2 linked regions of the Homo sapiens genome follow. The protein of the gene in region 1 interacts with the protein of each later gene in a biochemical or structural test. Each region holds a gene or a part of one and is shown on either strand. Other genes may lie near its edges.

Region 1 (7,000 bases):
GGAGCCGAATGTGGAGATGTCCTCTGGTAGGTTCCCAATGGGAATGTGAAAGTACCTGCACCAGGGCACAGGTCAGCACCGGGGCACATCGCCGGGTCACAGAGACCACCGAGGCCGGCTCTGCCTGGGGACCACTGGCCCACAACGACAGTACTGTGCTCACCTGCTCATCTCGAAGGCCTGCGACAGGCAGGTGTCCAGGTTGAGGTAGTGACGGATCATGCGCCGGGCTCCATGGCGCTGCCAGTCCAGGACCCCATAGTTGATCTTGTCAGCCACACAGATAGGCACCAGTGGGAATTCCTCCAAGACAGGAATTTCACTGGCCAGCCTCTTCAGCTCCCAGCTGGACTGAACAGCGATGAGTGTGGGCCCCCGGCGCTCCTCCTGGGTCAAGGCAAAATGGAAGAAAAGACCTGGGTGGACCCAGCCTCAAAGAAGATGGGGCTCACACAGCAAGACCCCAACCACTCTCACCTTGTAGGCGAGCAGGAATCGCTGGATGGCTCTGCAGATGGTCTTCAGGTCAGTTTCTGCCCGAACTTCGAAGGTGTGTTTGGGGGGTGGCAGGAGCTCAGGGCCCACCTTCTCCAGGAGGAGGCCGTGCTCTGCTGAGTACAGGGCGCCAAGGCTGGGCATCTGGTTGCTGCGCACCTAGACCAACGCAGGCCACGTCAGCCTCCCCCTGCGCAGGAGGAAGTGGGGGCAGCCCTGGGGCAGACTCCACCACTGCCACGGCACTGCCAATTCAATCACGACAAGCACTCATGGGCAAAGGCCCTTGAGGACAAGACCTGGAGGGCCTGGGCACCCTGGGAGATGTCCTCCTTCCCCAAACCCTGCCCCAGCCAATGTGCTGCCATGGAGGGCCCAGGACTCACAGTGTCCAGCACAAAGACGGATGCCCTGCGCTGTGAGGGGATGAAGATCCCGAAGAGCGCTTTGTGGGCCTGTGCGTGGTGGTACAGGTAGATATGGCGGATACTCCCTGGAGAAGGAAACAAGACCGTCACCCCAGATGTGTGGGAGGCAGGCACATGATGGGCGGCTGGTGCAGGCCATACCTGGTTCCAGGTAGCTGAACTGGGCCAGAGAGCGCATCTCCAGGTGCTCAAGAGCAAAGGTCTCTGCTTCCCAGCCTGAAAGGTGCCTCACCAGCTGTTTATTGACCACACACACACAGCCCAGGTGCACCAGGGCCCGGAACAGTAACGGAACCTGGAAGAATCGGGCAGACAGGCCGGCAAGGGCTGGATGGTGGGGGCTCTGGCTGCCCACGTGACTTCTGCCCGGGATGTGGCTGTGCCCCTGCAGCTGCCCGGCCCACTGCCCAAAGGCCACTTTTGGCAGACACACTGCTGACATTCACCTCACCTGTGGGAACGAGTCCACTGTCGCTGCTGTTCCCCAGCCCACACCCTGGGCGGGTTTCTTTCCTCCATACCACCCTGCTGGAGCCTCCCCCAGTTCAGTCGAGGGTGGCTGGGGAGTCACCTGAGTCTCATATACGCCCTCGATGTCTGGCGCTGACAGCTCAGCGTTGATCTCGTTGATGTGTTCCTGGTACATGTCCTCTGGCACTGAATACTCATAGAGATTGTAGACCATGTTGGAGCGAGGAAGGACCCGATTTACCTGGCGAGAATACGACGATGATCTCGTCACTGGGCGTAAGTGGTAATGTCTGTGGTACACACACAAAGCACACGCTATTCGGAGTCCTAGACTTCTGGTGCCCCTAGCGACGGGGTACACCCACCACGCCACAGTCCACCTCTCTCAATGATTACAACTAAAAACTCTGGATGTAATTTTTATGTTATTTATTTATTTTTTACAGACAGGGTCTTAGTCTGTTGCCCAGGCTGGAGTGCAGCAGTGTGATCACAGCTCACTGCAGCCTCCAACTCCTGGGCTCAAGTGGTCCTCCAGCCTCAGCCTCCTGAGTAGCTGGGACAAGGAACACACCACCACGGATGGCTTTTTTTTTTTTTTTTTTTTTTTGTAGAAAGGAGGTCTCACTATGAGGCCCAGGCTGGTCTCAAACTCCTGGACTCAAGTGATCCTCCCAAATCGCTGGAACTGCAGGTGTGAGCCACTATGCCTGGCCTCTGGACGCAATTTTGAAAAGCAACCTGCAGCCTCTGAGAATAGACAAGAGCTGTCAGAATACAGCAGTCAACACTGATCTGGGGAGGTTCCCAGTTCATCTTCCTCCATTCTCTCATGGGTTTAACCTGAGGGTGTAGATGGCAAAAACTGAGAGAAATCACATTTTCCTAGTCAGAGAAACGGAAAGAGAGCCCCTGGGGGAGCCAGAGTGTGTGTGTGGGGTCCTGGGGGGCTCTGGGAGAGCTGGAGAGGGGCACCCTAGCTTCGTGAATGGGGTCCTGGAGGGGTCTGGGAGAGCTGGAGAGGGGGCACCCTAGCTCCCTGTGTGGGGTCCTGGGGGGGTCTGGGAGAGCTGGAGAGGGGCACCCTAGCTCCCTGTGTGGGGTCCTGGGGGGGTCTGGGAGAGCTGGAGAGGGGGCACCCTAGCTCCCTGTGTGGGGTCCTGGGGGGGTCTGGGAGAGCTGGAGAGGGGCACCCTAGCTTCCTGTGTGGGGTCCTGGGGGGGTCTGGGAGAGCTGGAGAGGGGCACCCTAGCTTCGTGAATGGGGTCCTGGGGGGGCCTGGGAAAGCTGGAGAGGGGGCACCCTAGCTTCCTGTGTGGGGTCCTGGGGGGGTCTGGGAGAGCTGGAGAGGGGCACCCTAGCTCCCTGTGTGGGGTCCTGGGGGGGTCTGGGAGAGCTGGAGAGGGGGCACCCTAGCTTCCTGTGTGGGGTCCTGGGGGGTCTGGGAGAGCTGGAGAGGGTGCACCCTAGCTTCCTGTGTGGGGTCCTGGGGGGTCTGGGAGAGCTGAAGAGGGGGCACCCTAGCTCCCTGTGTGGAGGGCTGGGGGAATTCTGGAGAGGCGAGCTGGAGAGGGGTACCCTAGCTCCCTGTGTGGAGGGCTGGGGGAATCCTGGAGAGGAGAGCTGGAGAGGGGGCACCCTAGCTTCGTGTGTGGGGGGCTGGGGGAATCCTGGAGAGGAGCACCCTAGCTTCATGCATGAACCAGCAGCACAAGTCCCAGGCTCACTACGAGCTGCACTTGCACAGGTGACCCAAAACAACGCAGCAGAGGCTCTGGAGGCTGAGCTGACATTGGAAGCTTTGCACAAAGAGGCAAGGAAGAGCTTGGGCACTGGAATTAACCGTGTTGGTTGTTGCTAAAACAAACAAACAAAAAAACCTGACACGCTAAAGGATTTTTAAAAATACCCAAAGTCTCAAATATGTAAAATGTCCAGGTTGCAATAAAGCGTTATTTGGCGTAACAACAACCAGGAAAATCTGAATAATTCTCAAGCGAGAAGAGAACCAGTAGGGTTAGATTTTTCCAGTAACATGAAATTAGACCGACACACACACACACCCACACACACACACACAAAATCAAAGAAATGAAAAATTATGTTCTGGTAAATATGAACTGGAACAATTAGTGTAATTGCACTTTTTAAAATGTATATATTTCCTGGCTGTTCACTGAAGGAATCTAGATGAAATGATACCCCTTGAGCTCTAAGCTTGGTTTCTCAACATAACCTCTCAACGAGGCTCAGGCTCTTTAGAGGAACAGCTAATTCCACGTCTGGAAGTTCAAGGTGAGCCTGGCCTCTCTTAGTGGCCAAAAAGCAAGGAAGTTTTCAAAGACCAACAGGGCATGTCAAAAGGACTCAGGTGCCAGCTTGAAGGGATCTGGCCAGCCCAATTTGGGATAATTTGAGTCTCAAGAAGATATTGACCACCAAAGAGTCTACTGTCTGGTTCCATTAATATGAAGTTCTAGAAAGTCACATGCACACAGTTACAGAAATACAGAAATCAGGCCAGCAGAAGGTTGCACAGGGGGACAAGAGCACCCTCCCGGGTGATGGAAACGTTCTGCACCTGGGTGGGGGTGTGGGTGACACAGGCATAGTCATGTGTCCAAAAACCCAATCAACTGCACATTTAAAAATCTGCACTTAACTATATGTAAATTACAGTAAGTCCTCACTTAACATCAATGGATTCCTGGAAACTGTGATGGTTAAGTGAAGTAATGTATAGCAGGTCCTCAAATAACATCATTTTGTTCAACATTCTTTCTTCCTTTAAAAAAAAAAAAAAAAAAATTCTGGGGCCGGGCGCCATGGTTCAACCTGTAATCCCAGCACTTTGGGAGGCCGAGGTGGATGGATTACCTGAGGTCAGGAGTTCGAGACCAGCCTAACCAACACAGAGAAACCCCATCTCTACTAAAAAATACAAAATTAGCCGGGCGTGGTGGTGCGTGCCTGTAATCCCAGCTACTTGGGAGGCTGAGGCAGGAGAATTTCTTGAACCCGGGAGGCGGAGGTTGCGGTGAGCCGAGATGCGCCACTGGACTCCAGCCGGGCAACAGGAGAGAAACTCCATCTCAAAACAAACAAACAAACAAATAAAAATAAATAAATTTAAAAAATACTCTGTAGAGAAGGGGTTTTGCCACGTTGCCCAGGCTGGTCTCGAATGCCTGAGCTCAAGCAATCCACCAGCCTCAGCCTCCCAAATTGCTGGGATTACAGATATGCAGCACTGCGCCTGGCCAACACAGTTTCATTATAGTTTCTGAGAAGAAAAAAAATCTGTTTCATTATACATCATCTTACTTAGTCATTTCACTTAAAATTGCAGTTTCTAAGGACCTATCAACAACATAAAGTGAGGGCCTACCGTGTACCTTAACATACCTAACGTGTGTGTGTTGGGCGGGATTTGGCTACGGTTGATGTTAAAACATTAAACACTGAGGCAGGAGGATTGCTTGAGCCCAAGAGTACAAGGCTGCAGTGAGGCAAGATCATGCCACTGCACTCCAGCCTGGGTGATGGAGTGAGAGACCTTCTCAAAAACAGAAACAAAAAAGTTAAACAAAAATCCTCTAATCCATAGTAATACTTTAAAAAGAGAGGAAAAATGAAAGGAATAAACCCATTTTGCCATGCCCTACCTTGAAAATTAAAAATAATTTAAAGGGAAAAAGCATTTATCTTGCTTAAAAAAAAAAAAAGCGTATTATCCCTCTCGTATCTTGCTTTTTAAGGAATAGAGTTCATTTCTACCTGATCTGCACAAAGCTCTTCGTTATAAAGGAAACAGCTAATACACACAGAGGAACAGAATCTGAAGATATCATCCTGGAGCCCCATGGACCCCACGAGACATGGATGCTGACACCATCCAGTCAAACGTTGAGGACAGAATATTCACACAGCGCCAGAACCTCCCTCGAGATGAGCTGATAGTCATAAAGGGAAACATCCCAAAAGTTAGGGCACTTCCACACGGCCACAGCACCACAGCACCACGCATCGAAAGGAAGGTGTAGAAACCCCACAGTCCCACCTGTTCTCTGTGGTCTCGATGCCTCTGCGTCCGCTTTCCTCTTGTTATCCGCCCACCTCGGTCTCCCAAAGTGCGGGGATTACAGGTGTGAACCACCACACCTGGCTCTGCGTCTACTTTCTATATGCACATTCTACTGAATCACCTGGCTGGAATCGAGTTTCACCTTCTCCAGAAAACCTCCTTGTGTAGGTACAAATATGCACACCTCATCTCCCCAACTACGTGTCACTTCTTACGTGATTCACAGCATCCAGTCAAGAAATGTGCTGAGCCGACACATTAACAACGGGGAGTTCGGGTGGAGATGCCATCTAAGAGCCTCAGCGCACTCATGGCCACATGAAAACCCTCGCAGTTTCTGCAGGTGGAAGAAGCCCAGCACAAAGACCCACCTACTGTAGGGTTCCATTTACATCAAATGCCCAAACAGGCAAACCCAGAGACAGGAAGTGGATCAGTGGCTACTGAGGGCTGGGGGAGGATGGTGACAGGTAAGGGATGCCAGGTTTCTTTTTGGAGTGATGAAAATATCCGAATGGGGGGGTGAGGGGAGGGGGAATATCAGGATAAACAGCTAATGCATGTGGGGCCTAATGCCCAGGTGACGGGGTGATGGGTGCAGCAAACCACCATGGCATGTGCTTACTTATGTAACAAACCTGCACTTTCTGCACATGGATCCCAGAAATCAAAGTAAAATTAAAAAAAAGAAAAAAAAAGAAAATGTCACTATTGACTGGCAATAGTCATGCCACTAAAAGTCATTGAATTCTGCACTTTAAATGGGTGAGTTGGATGGCGTAACTTTACATCCCAATAAAGCTGTTAACAACCAAAGAGCCTACGGAGACAGAGTTCACAATCTCTAACCAATGCCACTTGGTTTGTCCCCGCAACATGGACCTCGCGGGCAGACAAGCTCATCGTGACAAGGACACCAGCAGCTCCATTCCCGGCACTCGCTCTGCCCCAGGCTCGGTGCTCAGCGCTCACACACGTTGTTTTGAGGAATTCCTAGAACATCCCCATAAGGTACTGAGGAGATGGAGGCTGGAGGCCAGGCTAGATCATGGGAAAGCCACCTCAGGCTGCCCAGATGACTGCAGAGGCAGCACCAGCTCCTCCCTACCTTGCGATACGAAGCACCCTCCTCCGCTTTAGCGACTCGCTGGTTCACGTAGAACACACGGGGGATGCTCAGCCTGATGCAGTGCAAGTCACTGCCAACGAGCGCCCACAGCCTGAACAGGCCGGCCTGGCTGGTCTCGCTGATCTGAAAGGCCACACGGACATACAGCACATCACAGGACACACTGGAACCCACAGACGGGGCCACCTTCCAGGTAGCTTGCAGCTCCCAGCACAGGGCCTTAGGCCTCCCTACGATGGGCAGGAAACTCCAGGCCCACTCTAACCCTCCCATCCCAGACCTCAGGGCCCAGCTGGACACCCCCTCCCTGGGCCATCAGCAGAGCCACTGCCCTCCCCTTGGATCAAGGTCTATACCTGCACAATCTGCCACGGAAGGTCCAGGATGCTGCGG
Region 2 (7,033 bases), on another chromosome or scaffold:
TGAACTTTTAGTAGGGACGGGGTTTCACCATGTTGTTCAGGCTGGTCCTGAACTCCTGACCTTGTGATCCACCTGCCTCTGCCTCCCAAAGTGTTGGGATTACAGGCGTGAGCCACCATGCTCAGCCCGTAACTGATTGCTTTTAAAGACAACAACCAAGATACCTATGTTTTTCCATCGAAACTTCCTCATTCGCCCAGGACCATCGCTGTGCAGATCCCCATCAGCAAGGTACCTCTCTTGGTATAAACGTAGCTGTCGCTTATCATCATCCAACATAGTTTTCCTGCAACAGGAGAAATAAGGTGTTCAAAACAAGGACCATTCTGGCTGGTTACAGGGCTTGTCTTAAGATGTACCCTATTACTCAGAAGGGCTTATTGGGATACTGACATGTGTATTTTCTTGATTTGACTCTGCAGTTCCTCATCAGAAGGAAGTACTTCATCAATTACGTCCTCTTCATATTCATCAATTTCTTCCCCATCATACTCATCTTCGCTTCCCACATCACTTCCTGACACCTCTGCCTCATCCTCCAGGTATTTCCTCAACCTCCTAGAAAGCAATTTTGAGGATTAGAAAATGCAACAATGAATATACTCACAGAATATGGAAGCAAAGAAAAGCAGAACAGAGTCACTTCTAATAATAATAAACATAATACATTTGATAATATTTAAATTTTTTTGTAATAGTCTCCACTTATGATGGTTTGACTTAATGATTTTTCAACTTTACGATGACATGAATGTGATACGCACTTAGTATGCTTCTCGATTTACGATGGAGTTATATCTGGATAATATGAAAGTGCATTTTCAACTTATGATGGATTGATCAGGATATAGTCCCATTGTAAGATGTGGAGCATCTGTATTTAAAAGTTGATCACTTAATATGTCTTGTGTGCTAATAACTGTGCTTTACAGGCATTAACATATTATCATAGGAATGGGTACTATTATTCTCTTCATTTTACAGTTGAGGGAATTGAGCCTCAGAAAGATTACATTTACCCAAGGTCACATAGCTAGAAGGTAGCAGAGCCTGGATTCAACTTAGATTGGGTGATTTGAAAGCCAGAAAACTCTTAATCTCTTTTACATGTATTAGAATACCTGCTGGAAGGTTCAAACTATTTCATTTTGCATTTGAGCACACCAGCTTTAAGAGACAAACTAGAGATGGTGTGGTGTAGAAAGGTAATAAACTGGGATCTTCTTACAGCCTAACAAATCTTGACCCCCACATCAGAAGGAAGACTAAGGCTCAGAGCTCCTGGTAATCAAAACGACTAGTTACTTCTTATGACTTCAGCTCCCCCGGAGAATAAATCTGGTGTCACCCTGGATTCAAAGTCACCTTGGTCCCATGTGGTCCAAAATGGCAGAAGTTTGGTGGCTTTCTGAAAACTGATTTTTATCGAAGACCTATACTGTATTTTCTCTTTTTTTTTTTTTTTGAGATGAAGTGTCGCTCTGTCGCCTAGGCTGGAGTGCAGAGATGCCATCTCGGCTCACTGCAACCTCCACCTCCTGGGTTCAAGTGATTCTCATGCCTCAACCTCCCGAGTAGCTGGGATTACAGGTGCGTGCCACCATGCCTGGCTAATTTTTGTTTTTTTAGTAGAGATAGGGTTTCACCATGTTGGCCAGGGTGGTCTTGAACTCCTGACCTCAGGGGATCTGTCCATCTCAGCCTCCCAAAGTGCTGGGATTACAGGCATGAGCCACCACGCCCAGCCTATACTGTATTTTCTTAAAGCTAAGTTGTTCTAAATCCTAGAGTTCCTGGAAAATTCCTTCAGAGGCCACTAGTCACTAAGTTTCCCAAACTTCCCACTTACCATCTTTGAACAGTTCAACTTTTATCTGTCATTCTTTAAAAGATTTTATTTGAACAAAGAGCTCTGCAGAGAAGAACCACTACCTTAGAAAAATCTATGGATAACCTAAAGCTGTATGAGAGTTAATTTGATAGGTGATAAATTAGAACCCAAAGTGAATCTTAATAGAATGAAATGATGGGATAAAAGCAACCATATAAATCTAATAGGGATCAATATGATGTCCTATATGTGAATTCCAAATCATTCACATACAATATAATATTAAATACCTATTAGAATTATCTTTATAAAACTTTTTTTAACATCATAGGAAAATGTTTCTGGATATGCTAAGTAGAAAAAAAAAGATGCAAAATTATACATATAGAAAGATTGTACAAATCTCAACTATATAAAAATATATGCATAAAAAAGATTAAGGGGAACAAACTAACTTTCATTTATATCCTGGATGGTGGACATGGATAAGTTTTTATTTATATCTTTCTGTATTCTTTTTTTGCGGGGGTCGGGGAGAATGGAGTTTCTCTCGTCGCCCAGGCTGGAATGCAATGGCACAATCTCAGCTCACTGCACCCTCCACCTCCCGGTTCAAGCGATTCTCCAGCTTTGCCTCCTGAGTAGCTGGGATTACAGGCACTGGCCATCACGCTTGGCTAATTTTGTATTTTTAGTAGAGACGGGGTCTCGCCATGTTGGCCAGGCTGGTCTCGAACTCCTGACCTCAGGTGATCCACCCGCCTCAGCTTCCCAAAGTGCTGAGATTATAGGCGTGGGCCACTGCACCCAGTTTGTATTCTTTTAAATATCCTAAAATAAATATTTTACTTTCATGACCAGAACAGCATATCAAAAAAATGAGTTGGGCCGGCCAGGTGGGGTGGCTCACGCCTGTAATCCCAGCATGTTGGAAGGCCAAGGCGGGTGGATCGTGAGGTCAAGAGATCGAGACCATCCTGACCAACATGGTGAAACCCCGTCTCTACTAAATATACAAAAATTAGCTGGGTGTGGTGGCACGTGCCTATATTCCCAGCTACTCAGGAGGCTGAAGCAGGAGAATCGCTTTGAACCCGGGAGGCGGAGGTTGCAGTGAGCCGAGATCATGCCACTGCCCTCCAGCCTGGGCGACAGAGCGAGACTCCGTCTCAAAAAAAAAAAAAAAAAAAAAAAAAAAAGCTGGGCCTGGTGGCTCATGCCTGTAATCCCAGACTTTGGGAAGCAGAGGCAGGAGGATCACTTGAGGCCAACAGTTTAAGACCAGCCTGGGAACAAAGCAAGGCCCCATCTCTACAAAAAATAGAAAGAATTAGCCAGGTGTGGTGGCACATGCCTGTTGTCCCAGCTACTTGGGAAGCTGAGGCAGGAGGATTTAAGTTAAAAAGTGGCAAACTATTAACTGACTGTTAGGGGAGATTTCACCTAATCTAAGTTGAATCCAGCCTCTGCTGCCTTCTAGCTATGTGATCTTGGGTAAATTTAATCTTTCTGAGGCTCAGTTCCTTCAACTGTAAAATGAGGAGAATAATAGTACCCACTCATAAGATAATTTTTTTGAGATGGAGTCTTGCTCTATCACCCAGGCTGGAGTGCAGTGGGGCAATCTTGGCTCACTGCAACCTCCGCCTCCCATATTCAAGCAATTCTCCTGCCTCAGCCTCCCAAGTAGCTGGCACTACAGGCGCCCAGAACCATGCCTGGCTAATTTTTGTATTTTATTTTGTATTTTGTATTTTTAGTAGAGAGGGTTTCACCATGTTGGTCACGCTGGTCTCAAACTCCTGACCTCAAGTAATATGCCTGCCTTGGCCTCCCAAAGTGCTGGGATTACAGGCGTGAGCCACTGTGCCTGGCATAAGATAATATGTTAATGCCTGTAAAGCACAGTTATTAGCACACAGGACATATTAAGTGATCAACTTTTTTTTTTTTTTTTTTTTTGAGACAGAGTCTCGCTCTGTCACCCAGGCTGAAATGCAGTGGTGCGATCTCGGCTCACTGCAACCTCCACCTCCTGGGTGCAAGCGATTCTCCCTGCCTCAGCTTCCTGAGTAGCTGGGACTACAGGCACCTGTCATCACATCTGGCTAATTTTTATATTTTTTAGTAGAGACAGGGTTTCACCATGTTTGTCAGGATGGTCTCGATCTCTTGACCTGTGTCACCAAGACCAGGCTGGTCTTGAACTCCTGACCTCAGGTGATCCGCCTGCTTCAGCCTCCCAAAATGATGGGATTACAGGCGCAAGCCACCATGCCTGGCCTAGTGACCAAATTTTAAATACACCTGAAGGAATGGACATATTAATAACACGTACATTTGCCTTTTCAACTTCTCAGATCGCTTCAGGAGTTCTTCTTCATCATCATCTTCATGGTCTTCCAGTGCCAGATCATTACCAGAGTCACTGTGTTCATCCTACAAAATCAGCATCATATCCAAATTAAGCAGAATAAAATGCGTCCTCAATGAAAAAAGGATTTATAAACATCTGCCCAAATACCTCATTCTAGGAAATTGTTTCTGATAAGATGCCAAACTTAGAATTCTCAAGAACTGAGGGGAAAAAAACACTTGAGGGCAGCAATACATGGAGCTCAGTTATGATTACTTTGTTCCCTTCATACTCACCTCATCACTATCAAACTCATTATCATTTGAAACAAGCCGAAAGTCTCCAAATTCCTCCTCCTCGTCTTCCTCTTCCCTAAAATGTAAATCAATGAATCAATAAATAAGTTGTTGAAAGCAAACTACAAGTAGTCAGCCAAGTTATGAATTAAAAAAAATTTTGTGTGTGTTAATTTTTTTTTTTTCTCTGAGACAGTCTTGGTCTCTTACACCACCTGGAATACAGTGGCACCATCTCAGCTCACTGTAACCTCCACCTCCAGGGCTCAAGTGATCCTCCCACATCAGCCTCCTGAGTAGCTGGGACTAGAGATACAAGCCACCATGTTCAGCTAATTTTTGTATTTTTGTAGAGACAGATTTCACCATGTTGCCCAGGTTCATCTTGAATTTCTGGATTCAAGCAATCTGCTTGCCTTGGGCTCCCAAAGTACTGGGATTATAGGTATGAGCCACCTCGCCCAGCCAAATTTAAAACTTTTATTATCACCAATAATCTCTTCAATAAACAGGAAGAAAATTTTTTAAATTTTCAATTGTGGTAAAATACACATAATATAAAATTTGCCTTTTTAACGATCTTTCTATAGTTCTGTAGTGTTAAGTACATTCATATTGTTAAGCAATCTCCAGAACTCTTTTCAGCTTGCAAAACTAAAACTCTATACCCATTACACTCTCCATTTCCTTATAACCTCAGTCTCTGGCAACCACCATTCTACCTTCTGTCTCTATGCATTTGACTACTCTAAGTATCTCATGTAAGTGGACTCATACAGTATTTGTCTTTTGGTGACTGGCTTATTTCTTTTAGCATAACATTCTAAGGTTCATCCATGTTGTAGCAAGTGTCAGAACTTCTTTTTTTTTGAGACAGGGTCTTGCTCTGATGCCCAGAGTGCAGTGGCACAATCATGGCTCAATGCAGCATTGACCTCCCAGGCTCAAGCAATTCTCCCACCTCAGCCCCCTGAATAGCTGGTACTGCCGGCACACGCCTAGCTAATTTTAGTATTTTTTTTATAGGGATGGGGTTTTGCCATATTATCCAGGCTGGTCTCAAACTCCTGAGCTCAAGTGATGCGCCCACCTCAGCCACCCAAAGTGTTGGGATTACACGTGTGAGCCACCATGCCCAGCCAGAATTTCCATTTTAAGTTGAATATTCCTTTGCATATATACCGCATTTTGTTTACCCATTCATTTGCCAATAAACATAGGTCGCTTTCATGTTTTGACTACTTACTGTGAATAATGCTGCTTTGAACATGGGGGTGCAAATATCTGTTCAAGTCCTGCTTTCACTTTTTTGGGGTACAGACTAAGAAGTGAAATTGCTGGATCATATGGTCATTCTATTTTTATTTATTTATTTTGAGACGGAGTTTTGTTCTTGTTGCCCAGGTTGGAGTGCAATGGCATGATCTCGGCTCACTACAACCTCTGCCTCCCGGGTTCAAGCAATTCTCCTGCCTCAGCCTCCCAAGTAGCTGGGATTACAGGCATGCGCCACCATGCCCAGCTAATTTTTTGTATTTAGTAGAGACGGGGTTTCACCATGTTGGTCAGGCTGGTCTCGAACTCCTGACCTCAGATGATCCACCGTGCCTGGCCTCTATTTTTAATTTTTGAGGAGCCATCATACTTTCCCTGGCAGCTGCACTATTTTACATTCTCACCAATAGTACACAAGGTTTCCAATTTCTCCACATTCTCACTAACACTCTTGGGGTTTTTCTGATAAAAGTCATCTTAATGGGTGTCTCACTATGGTTTTGATTGGCATTTCTCTATTAATGATATTAAATAGCTTTCATATTCTTGCCTTTTTTACCCTGTTCTCCACCAAAGCATTATAATTTGCTTACTAGGCATATATGAGACTCAAATCCACTGCAAGATTCTCAGAAAAGGTGCAAAGCCCTTAAGATGATCAGTTATTTTGATTTTATCAAAAGGCCAGGCCTTCCCAAATTCCCAGCAATCTGAGACTTACTTGTCTGTGGGAAAAGAGCCTGAGCAAAGAGCAAGTGCTTCTTCCATTGGATCACCCATGCTGCTCTCCTTCTCCTGTTTATTTAACTCTGATGAGGCTGGAGTGGAGGCATCTACATCACAACAAGGAAAAGATGTGTCACCAAGGAATGATAGCTTTATACTCTTTTCCCAGCCATCTAAAGTCATGCCAGCTCGATACAGTTCTAAGGTAAGCTTGCCAAGAAGAGCCTACCATCTATTCATTCAACAAATCCTTATTTAGTGCTTACTATGTGCCATATGTGCCAGGCCACCAGGGATACAGTAATGAACAAACCACTATCCCAGGTCTCATAGAGCTTATGTTCGATCTAGCAGTTGTGTGTATTGGGGGCAGGGAACAGGAAGTAAGTTAACATTTATATGAAATTTATTATACATCAGACACTGTTCTAAACTTTGTACATACATTAATCATAAATGATATATGGGCAAAGCTAAAGCAGTCTTTTTTTTTTTCAAGACTTTTTTTTTGAGACAGTCTCTCTCTGTTGCCCAGGCTGGAGTGCAGTG

The links.
Region 2: the proteins of POLE (region 1) and CLSPN form a complex in vitro, tested with the Homo sapiens proteins (one study listed by BioGRID).

The regions. Positions count from the first base shown.
Region 1 is NC_000012.12:132,642,343-132,649,342, forward strand, and holds part of POLE (DNA polymerase epsilon catalytic subunit A), read right to left. Parts: coding exon 6,964-7,000; intron 6,731-6,963; coding exon 6,587-6,730; intron 1,685-6,586; exon of another isoform or gene 1,636-1,684; coding exon 1,495-1,635; intron 1,219-1,494; coding exon 1,065-1,218; intron 989-1,064; coding exon 882-988; intron 655-881; coding exon 478-654; intron 388-477; coding exon 164-387; intron 56-163; coding exon 1-55. UniProt on the Homo sapiens protein: Catalytic component of the DNA polymerase epsilon complex. Participates in chromosomal DNA replication.
Region 2 is NC_000001.11:35,738,972-35,746,004, forward strand, and holds part of CLSPN (claspin), read right to left. Parts: intron 6,592-7,033; coding exon 6,480-6,591; intron 4,606-6,479; exon of another isoform or gene 4,560-4,605; coding exon 4,484-4,559; exon of another isoform or gene 4,271-4,483; coding exon 4,170-4,270; intron 559-4,169; coding exon 394-558; intron 287-393; coding exon 165-286; intron 1-164.